Linked DNA regions of Homo sapiens. The protein of the gene in region 1 purifies or fractionates together with the protein of each later gene. This does not show direct contact. Each region holds a gene or a part of one and is shown on either strand. Other genes may lie near its edges.

The links. Proteins that work in one complex are often made in the same cells at the same time.
Region 2: the proteins of NSF (region 1) and STX12 purify together in Homo sapiens (co-immunoprecipitation; 4 studies listed by BioGRID and IntAct, with this or other methods). This does not show direct contact.

Annotation. Positions count from the first base shown.
Region 1 is NC_000017.11:46,596,136-46,601,429, forward strand, and holds part of NSF (vesicle-fusing ATPase), read left to right. Parts: intron 1-5,294.
Region 2 is NC_000001.11:27,821,581-27,825,839, forward strand, and holds the end of STX12 (syntaxin-12), read left to right. Parts: intron 1-650; coding exon 651-749; 3' UTR 750-2,863; downstream 2,864-4,259. UniProt on the Homo sapiens protein: SNARE promoting fusion of transport vesicles with target membranes. Together with SNARE STX6, promotes movement of vesicles from endosomes to the cell membrane, and may therefore function in the endocytic recycling pathway.

The DNA of each region.
Region 1 (5,294 bases):
ACTGCAATAAACATGCAAGTGCAGCTATCCCTTTGATACATTGATTTCTTTTCCTTTGTGTAGATACCCAGTAGTGGGATTGCTGGATGGAAGGTAATTCTATTTTTAGCTTTGAGAAATCTCCATACAGTGTTCCTTAGTGGTTGTACTAGTTTACATTCCCACCGACAGTGTATGTGAGAGTTCCCTTTTCTCTGCATCCTTACTAACATCTGTTACTTTTTGTCTTTTTAATAATAGCCATTCTGACTGGGGTAAGATGATATCTCATTGTGGTTTTGATGTGCATTTCTCTGATAGTGGTGTGGAACATTTTTCCATGTCTTCTTTTGGCCATTGTATGTCTTCTTTTTTAATGGGATTATTTGTTATTTTCCTTTTGAGTTGTTCGAGTTCCTTGTATGTTCTGGATATCAGTCCTCTGCTTGATGAATACTTTGCAAATATTTTCTCCCATTCAACAGGTTGTCTCTTCATTCTGTTGATTATTCTTTTGCTGTGCAGAAGCTTTTTAGTTTGCTTAAGTCCCATTTGTTTAGTTTTCTTTATGTTACCTGGGCTTTTGATGTCTTAATCATAAATTCTTTGCTTACACCAATGTCCAGGAGTGTTTTCCCTAGACTTTCTTGTAGTATTTTTATAGTTTTGGGTCTTAAAATCTTCAATCCATTTTGAGTTGATTTTTGTATATGGTGAGAGATAGGGGTCTAGTTTCACACTTCTGCATGAAGTTATGCAATTTTCCCAGCATCATTTATTGAAGACAGTGTCCTTTCCTTAGTGTGAGTTCTTGTCAGTGTTGTTGAAGATCATTTGTCTATAATTATGTGGTTTTATTTCTGGATTCTCTATTCTGTTCCATTGGTCTACATGTCTATTTTTATACCAATACCATGCTGTTTTGGTTACTATAGCTTTATAATATATTTTGAAGTCAGATAATGTGATGTCTGCAGCTTTGTTCTTTTTGCCCAGGTTTGGTTTGGTTGTTTGGGCTTTTTTCTTTTTCCTTTTTTGGTCCCATATGAATCACATTGGTATTTTGATAGGGATTTCATTGAATCTGTAGATTGCTTTGGCAATATGGTCATTTTAGTGATATTAATTCTTTCCACAAGCATAGGATGTTTTTTGATTTATTTTCTTTCATTGGTGTTTTGTAGTTTTCTTTGTAGAGATCTTTCACCTCCTTAGTTAAATGTATTCCTAGGTTTTTGTTTGTTTTCGGTAGCTATTGTAAATGGGATTGCCTTCTTAATTTCTTTCTTGGCTAGATCCTTATTGATGTATAGAAATGCTACTGATTTAAAGGTTTTCTAAACCTACAGATATATAATCAGCAAAGAGACAATTTGACTTTCTCTTGTCCAGTTTGGATGCCTTTCATTTCTTTCTCTTGTCTGATTGTTCTGGCTAGGATTTCCAGTACTGTGGTGAATAGGAGTGGTGAAAATGGGCATCCCTGCCTCATTCCAGCTTTTAGAAGAAAGATCTCACCTCTCCTCATTCAGTATGATGTTAGCTCTGGGTTTGTTGTGTATAGACTTTATTATTTTGAGATATATTCCTTCTATGCCTAATTTGTTGAGAGTTTTTTTAATCATGAAGGGATGTTGAATTTTATCAAATGTTTTTGTTGTTGTTGCAATACTCTTTTTTTTTTTTTTTTTTTTTTTTTTTTGAGACAGAGTCTTGTTCTGTTGCCCAGGCTGTAGTGCAGTGGCGCGATCTTGGCTCACTGCAACCTCCACTCACTGGGTTCAAGCAATTCTCCTGCCTCAGCATCCCTAGTAGCTGGGATTACAGGCCTGTGCTACCACACCCAGCTAATTTTTCTATTTTTAGTAGAGACAGGGTTTTGCTATGTTGGCCAGGCTGGTCTCGAACTCCTGACCTCAAGTGATTTGCCTGCCTTGGCCTACCAAAGTGCTGGGATTACAGGCGTGAGGCACTGAGCCCGGCTGTTGCGATACTCTTAATGGGTTTTATATTTCCTTTTTGTGGGGGACAGTTTATTTTGCATTCTTACTACTTTTGATATTCTGACATCATCTTATAAGTGGGATTTATATTCACTATGTAATTGAAGTTTTTTCCAATGAAGCACCGTATATAGTTTATCTGGGAAATTGGCTGAAGAATAAAATGTGTGATGTTATTCAGTGTACAGTTTCTAGGTCATCAGAAGATACCACTACCTTCCCACTACTGGAAAAGAAAAAAGAAAAGTTTTCCACAGTGCCTGAACTGTTTTGTATGCTTATCTTTTAAAATTGCCAGAAATCTCACTTACTGGAGATTCAGCAGTCCCTTTCTGAAAATACACATACTTTAGTGCAAATAAAGCCAGTGGATCTCTTTCTTCATAAGTCCTTAAACCTAGTCGAGGTCATCTGTTTGGCAGAGATAGGAGTAAGATAATGTGAAATAGGAACCAACGAGAGAGAACTTGCTTAGGAGTTGAAAGGGGTATGGAAAGATGTTAGAGGTAAAATTTGTCGAATCTAGTGTTTTGACTAGGGCAGGCCAGAATATTCAGTATCAGTATCAATATCAGAAGCTTTTGTAGCCTTTGTTTAGAAACCTAGTCATTTATAACATTTTGTGGGTGAATGACATCATTACCAAACAAACTTTCAGATGAAACTTTGGAACTCAAGCTGTAAATTGTGGATAGCTCATGTGCAGTACTACAAATCAAAACAAATACTATAAAGTGTTTGGTAGTCCATTTCCTGAATGAAAGTTTGTCCAAAGTATATCAACTTTCTGCAGTCTTACATGCAGTAGTTATTAGTTTTGTGTATCGCTTTAGTGGATATTTTTAAAAGTATCTTCAAATGCAATGAATTTTAGGAAACAAAACAATTCTTTAAAGCATCATTAGATAGCTTCTTCTTTCTGAAACCCAGAGGAATTTATGTATAGGATGACTCTTTTTTTCAAGTAGTTAAGTTAAGGTGCAAAAGTATAAGGTAAAGTATATTATCTTACCATTGAAAATTTTGGCAGTGGCAGAAGAGCGAACCCTTACAAATACCTTCATTGGGCAATACACTAAGCACTTGCTGTAATGCTTTTTAAAACATCTATACTCTGGCTGTGGTATTTTAAGTGAAAATCTCTCAGTGAGATACTCTTTCGTATTTTAGTACTGATATCCTTAATATTGCTCTGAGAGCTACCTTATACTGACTTCAGTTTCCTAGTGATTTAAACTACTAATTTCCAACTTATTTTTTTTTATAGTGAAAACTAAATATTCCTTTTGTAGATGTAACCATTTCTGGAAGCCCTAAGTATTTTTGAATGAGTATAATTCATGCACACTTTAAGAGATTTCAAGCATGACAAGCACAGTGAATAACATATATCCATGTGATTACCACTGAGGTTTAAGAAATGTTAACATATGATATCTGCTTCAGATATTTATCTTTTTAAAAATAGAACATTACAGCTGGGCATGGTGGCTCACACTTGTAATCCCAGCACTTTGGGAGGCTGAGGCTGGTGGATCACCTGAGGTCGGGAGTTCGAGACCAGCCTGGCTGACATGGAGAAACCCCGTCTCTACTAAAAATACAAAATTAGCCGGGCATGGTGGCACATGCCTGTAATCCCAGCTACTCGAGAGGCTGAGGCAGGAGAATCGCTTGAACCTGGGAGGCAGAGGTTGCGGTGAGCGAGATCACAACTCCAGCCTGGGCCACAAGAGTGAAACTCAGTCTCAAAAATAATAATAATAAATAAAAAATAGAACATTACAGATCCAATTGACTCTTCTTTGTATTGCTCCTTTTTTTTTTTTTTTTTAGTTTTATTTAAAAATTTTTTTTAGAGGCTGAGTCTCACTTGGTGGCCTGGGCTGGAGTGCAGTGGCGCAGTCATAGCTCACTGCAGCTTCACACTCCTGAGCTCGAGCAATCTTCCTGCTTCAGCTTCCTGAGTAGCTTGGACTAGCAGAGGTGTGCCACCACATCTGGCTAATTAAAAAAAAGTTTTTAGAGATAGGATCTCTCTGTGTTGCTCAGGTTAGTCTCAACACCTGGCCTCAAGTGATCCTCCCACCTCAGCCTCCTGAGTAGCTGTGGTTGTAGGTGGCAGCCACCACACCTGGCAGTATCCCTTCTTGAGACCACTGACCTTTCCCAGAAGTAATCACTGTCCTGAAGTTGGTATAGATTCTTTCTGTCTACATCTATGCATGTTTATGCTCAAAAACAATATATTGCTTTGTGTGTCTTTAAAATGTATATAATGGTTTTATGCTATATCTTTCTTTCTGCAACCTGCATTTTTCACTTAAAATAATTTTGAAATTTAGTCCTGTGGATATATAGTGAGCCAATTAATTCTGCTTAGCTACTCTGTAGTCTGTTTTGTGAATATACCACAATCATCTACTTTCTTATTAGAGGACAATTTAGGCAGTTCCAATTTTATTTTTCCCGGAATGTACATTATTTTAGTCGAGTGCCATTGCCACATTAGCGATATTTTGGTTAGTGAGGGACTGCAGATAGGAAGGTGATCCCAAAAGATTATAATGCCATATATTTACTCTACCTTTCTATATTTACATATGTTTAGTTACACAATTACCCATTATGTTACAGTTGCTTACAGCATTTGGTGCTGTAACATGCTGTACAGGTTTGTAGCCTAGGAGCAATAGGCTATACCATATAGGTTTGTGTAAGTACGCTCTATGATATTCATATAACGATGAAATCACCTAGTGACACATTTCTCAGAATGTATCCCTATTGTTAAGCAACACATGAGTGTGTGTCTCCATGCATATATGTGTAAGAGTTAGCATGTGTGTCCAGAGGTAGAATTGCTGGGCGATAAGTCATACTCATCTTTACCTAGTTATGCCAGTTTATACTGTCACTAGCAGTATATGAGTACCTGTTATTTATATCCTCTCCAACACTTAATATTGCTGACATTTTAACTTTTACAATATAATAGGTGTAAAACTATTGTTTAAATTTGCATGTTGTCCTCATTACTAGTGAGATTAAGCATTTTTCATATTGGTCATTGGGATTTCCCCTTCTGTGAATTACTTTTGTATATTTGCTCATTTTTTCTGTTGGGCTGTGTATTTTTTTAGTGATTTGTATAATTTTTCGTTTTTTGGGGGGTAGGGTATGCTTTGGATTCTAATCCTTTGTTGTAAATAGCTTCTCTCAGACAGTGATGGTCTTTTCATGATGTTTATAGAGTGTTGGATTTAAATTTTATAGTTATAATTACCCTTTTTTTTTTTTTACCTTGGTGAT
Region 2 (4,259 bases), on another chromosome or scaffold:
CATAACAGTTTTATACGTATTATAAAATGTTATTAAAATACACATGCACAAATAACTTATTTTATTGCAAATAATGCCTGGCAGCACAGGTATAGTTCCTTTGCAAAATTGTATGTGGGGACTTGGAATTAAAACTTTGAAACCTATACTACTCGGCTGGGTGCGGTGGCCCACGCCTGTAATCCCAGCCCTTTGGGAAGCCGAGGCAGGTAGATCACTTGAGGTCAGGAGTTCGAGATCAGCCTGGCCAACACTGGTGAAACCCCGTCTCTACTAAAAATACAAAAACTAGCTGGGCATAGTGGCACACGCCTGTAATTCCAGCTGCTCAGGAGGCTGAGACATTAGAATCACTTGAACCTGGAAGGTGGAGGTTTCAGTTAGCCAAGATCGCACCACGGCACTCCAGCCTGGGTGACGGAGTGAGACTCTGTCTCAAGAAAAAAAAAAACACCAAACAAACAAAAAACACTTGCACTACTACCTAGTGCTGCTGACTTAAGATTTCTGGGAAAGTCTGTGCATAATTTTGCATGGATAGAGTTAATCTTTAATTACAAGGAGGCAGATTTATGAAGCATTCTTAGAGTCTTACACATACAAATTTTACTTGTTTCATGAGTATCTTGTTTACATATTTCTTTCCTCAGAAAAAATCTCGCAAGAAGATGTGTATCCTGGTGCTTGTCCTGTCAGTGATTATTCTAATCTTGGGACTTATTATCTGGCTAGTTTATAAAACGAAGTGATTGCCTCCGATCGTTCTCCCGCTGAGCTGTTTTCAAGGGCAAGTGCTTGTTGAAGTCTTGCCAGAACAAACTGATCACAAGAAGACAGCATATATCAGAACGTCCTGTAATCATTTAGTTAGAAACTAACTACTAACTAGTCTTTGGAATTCGTGACCTATGGAGACAGTAATTATCAATTTATTGATTCTATTGATTTCTCAAATTAGGAATTAACTTATGTGGATTTTGCTTCCTCTTGTATTCTGATTGCCCTTCATCCCAAGTGTTTACTGAAAATTCCATTCTAGATATTCTTGTTTTGACAAATGACACTACAGTCTCGTAATATTGTCTTTTATGTATATACAAAATTTACCTTTTTACTAGCATCTGAGATAGAGTTACTTTCTGGTACCCAGTATATTGGAGTCTGTCAGAAACTCTATAATAGGCCACCAGTTTTTATTATTTAACATTTTTATTTGAATTTCTAAGAAGCCTATTCTCTATCTATTTTGAAAGATTTTGGCACTATATTTAATTGGAAGGTAAAATATTGTACATGTGATCCAGAGTAAATGAGAAGTCTCTATCTGAGCTGGTCAGTTACTGGAGTACATGTTACTAATCTGGGTTTAAAGTTTACTTCATTATCTGCTAGTGTCATCCACAGCAGTTCATCCTCATCCACACTAAGCCATCCTGTTAGCTTTTAAAGGAAGTTAATTTAATTAACATTAATATACTCTATGGGCTCCCTCTCCCACCTGTCTGCATAGAAAGGCAGAATTAGACATAGCATGCTTTGGAAAAGCAAATAGGAATTGTTGGGAATGATTTAATCTTGTTGTTGTTGTTGTTGTTGTTCACTTGTGGTTCTACATTCCTGGTGAATGATGAATGTTGCTGTCAAAGGGCTGCCCCCTACCTTATAAGGGTTGCTGGGCATTTGAAGGCAGGAAGATTTTTAAAGATAGATTGAGGTTGGTTTAAAATTATTCCTGTAAACCAACAATAAAGCAAAGAAGAGGTTCATTTTTGTAAATAACACTGGTTTCAAATAGTGATGTTAGACTTAACCTAATTTATAAACAAGAGATTAATATCTCCATGCATAGTTTTAGACAAAAAAAGATGTTTCAATAAAATTACTGTCTTGTAATATAAATGTTGTCCACTTCCCTTTTCCACAGGCCTAGAACAGTTAAAGGGAACATAATTTGTTTAGGCTCCCACATAAATGTGAATCTGGCCAACAACTTTGGTTCATCCTTTAGTGAATTAGAGGATTTGGCTACCCTGAGTATATTTATATTCATTTCTTCTGTTCTCCTTCTGTTATTATACTTAATCTTCTAAACTAAACTAATGTGAACAGTAGGGAAGCAAGGGCCCAAATGCATAAGTTTCTTTGCACTGTTGCACTTACTTAATACAAATAAATGTTTTTTAAAGCTTTTGTAGTATGTTTTTATGAGTTAACATCCTAATGTGGTAGGTATTAGGTAATGTGCTGTCATGAGAAAAATTGAGACTTCCAAGAAAACTGGACACCAGGTGAGGGTTGGTTTGGAGACGGAATAGGTGTAGCTGCCTTTCCTTGAAAAACAGTGTGTAGAGATGGCTGAGTGCAATGGCTCACACTTGTAATCCCAACACTTTGGAAGGCTGAGGCGGGAGGATCAGTATATCGGTACGTCTGAGCCCAAGAGTTCAAGATCAGCCTGGGCAGTATAGCAAGACCCCATCTCCATTTTTTTTTTAATGATTTTTTAATTAAAAAAAAGAACAACAGGATAGAGCTGTTGGGGTGGCACAGTGGCCCAAAGAGCAGCTTCAGAGATAATTCCTTGGTTCTATGATCCCTGTTTAACTCCAAATTACAGTCGGACTTGGATACATCATTTGTAACATTGTAGGAAAGAAAAAAGTCTTGGTTGTGAAAAACGATTTGCATTTGGGTAAAATAAAGTGACCATGCTTTTGTTCTGTAATACTGTGTGACCTGTGGTTGTTGTAATGGTGATCATGGAGAGCAAATATGAACTTGGCCTGGATTTTAAATGGCCTAGAATTTGTGGTAGTTGCCAAAGAGGTTCTCCTAGGTGGTCTTAATAAACCTATTCACAGAATTCTCCTTATCTGTGCCTTGATTATCATTGGGAGCATCACAATCTAGGACAGCAGTTTTTAACATGGCTTCACATTAGAAACTAAAAAAATACAGTGCCCACTTTGGCAGCACGTATATAAAATGGGAACAATAGAGAGAAGATTAGCATGGCCCCTGCACCAGGATGACTTGCAAATTCATGAATTCTCTCTCTCTGTCTCTCTCTCTGTGTGTATGTATATATATACTTTTTTTTTTTTTTTTTTTTTTGAGACAGGGTTTCACGCTGTCGCCCAGGCTGGAGTGCCGTGGCACAATCTCAGCTCACTGCAACCTCCACCTCCTGGGTTCAAGCAATTCTCATGCTTCAGCCTCCCAAGTATCTGGGATTACAGGTGCTCACCACAATGCCTGACTCATTTTTTAAAATATATTTTTAGTAGAGATGGGGTTGTACCATGTTAGCCAGGCTGGTCTGGAACTCCTGACCTCAAGTGATCCGCCCACCTCGGCTTCCCAAAGTGCTGCAATTACAGGCCTGAGCCACTGGCGCCTGGCCGAAGTGCTCTATATTTTTAAAAAAATATTCTCTGTGCTCCTCTTCTTGCTAAAAAATAAAAAATAAATACTGATACCTCAGTCCCACAACTCCAAGATTTTAATTTAGTCTGGAGTATATATAGCTTGGGCATAGGGATTTTTAAAGGCCCCAGGTAATTCTTACCTGTAACTGTGGTTGAGAAGCATTGGTTTGGATGTCAGAAACTAGACTGGGGTACAAAAGACCTTAGCTGTGCCGTTAACTTGCTGAGGGTATTTGAAAAAGTCACTTATGGCTGGGCGCGGTGGCTCATGCCTGTAATCCCAGCACTTTGGGAGGCTGAGGCGGGTGGATCACGAGGTCAGAAGTTAAAGACCAGTCTGGCCAACATGGTGAAACCCCATCTCTACTAAAAATACAAAAATTAGCCAGGCATAGTGGCACACACCTGTAATCCCAGCTACTTGGGAGGCTGAGGCAAGAGAATTGCTTGAACCCAGGAGGTGGAGGTTGCAGTAAGCCAAGATCATGCCACTGCACTCTAGGTCTGGGCAACAGAGCAAGACTCTTGTCTCGGGGGAAAAAAGAAAAAGTAACTTAACCTTTAGGCCCCAAGTTTTCTTGGTAGCTCTTTTCCAGCTACGAAATTTTCTGATTATAAGGACCCACGGCAGTTTAGTGTGAACATACAAATTGTATTTTTACCTCTATCTTCCTTTCATTTTCTCATCTCCTTTTCTTTTTTTTTTTTTTTTTTTTTTTTTTTTTGAGATGGAGTCTCGCTCTGTTGCCCAAGCTGGAGTGCAGTGGCGTGACTCGGCTCACTGCAAGCTCCACCTCCTGGGTTCACGCCATTCTCCTGCCTCAGCCTCCC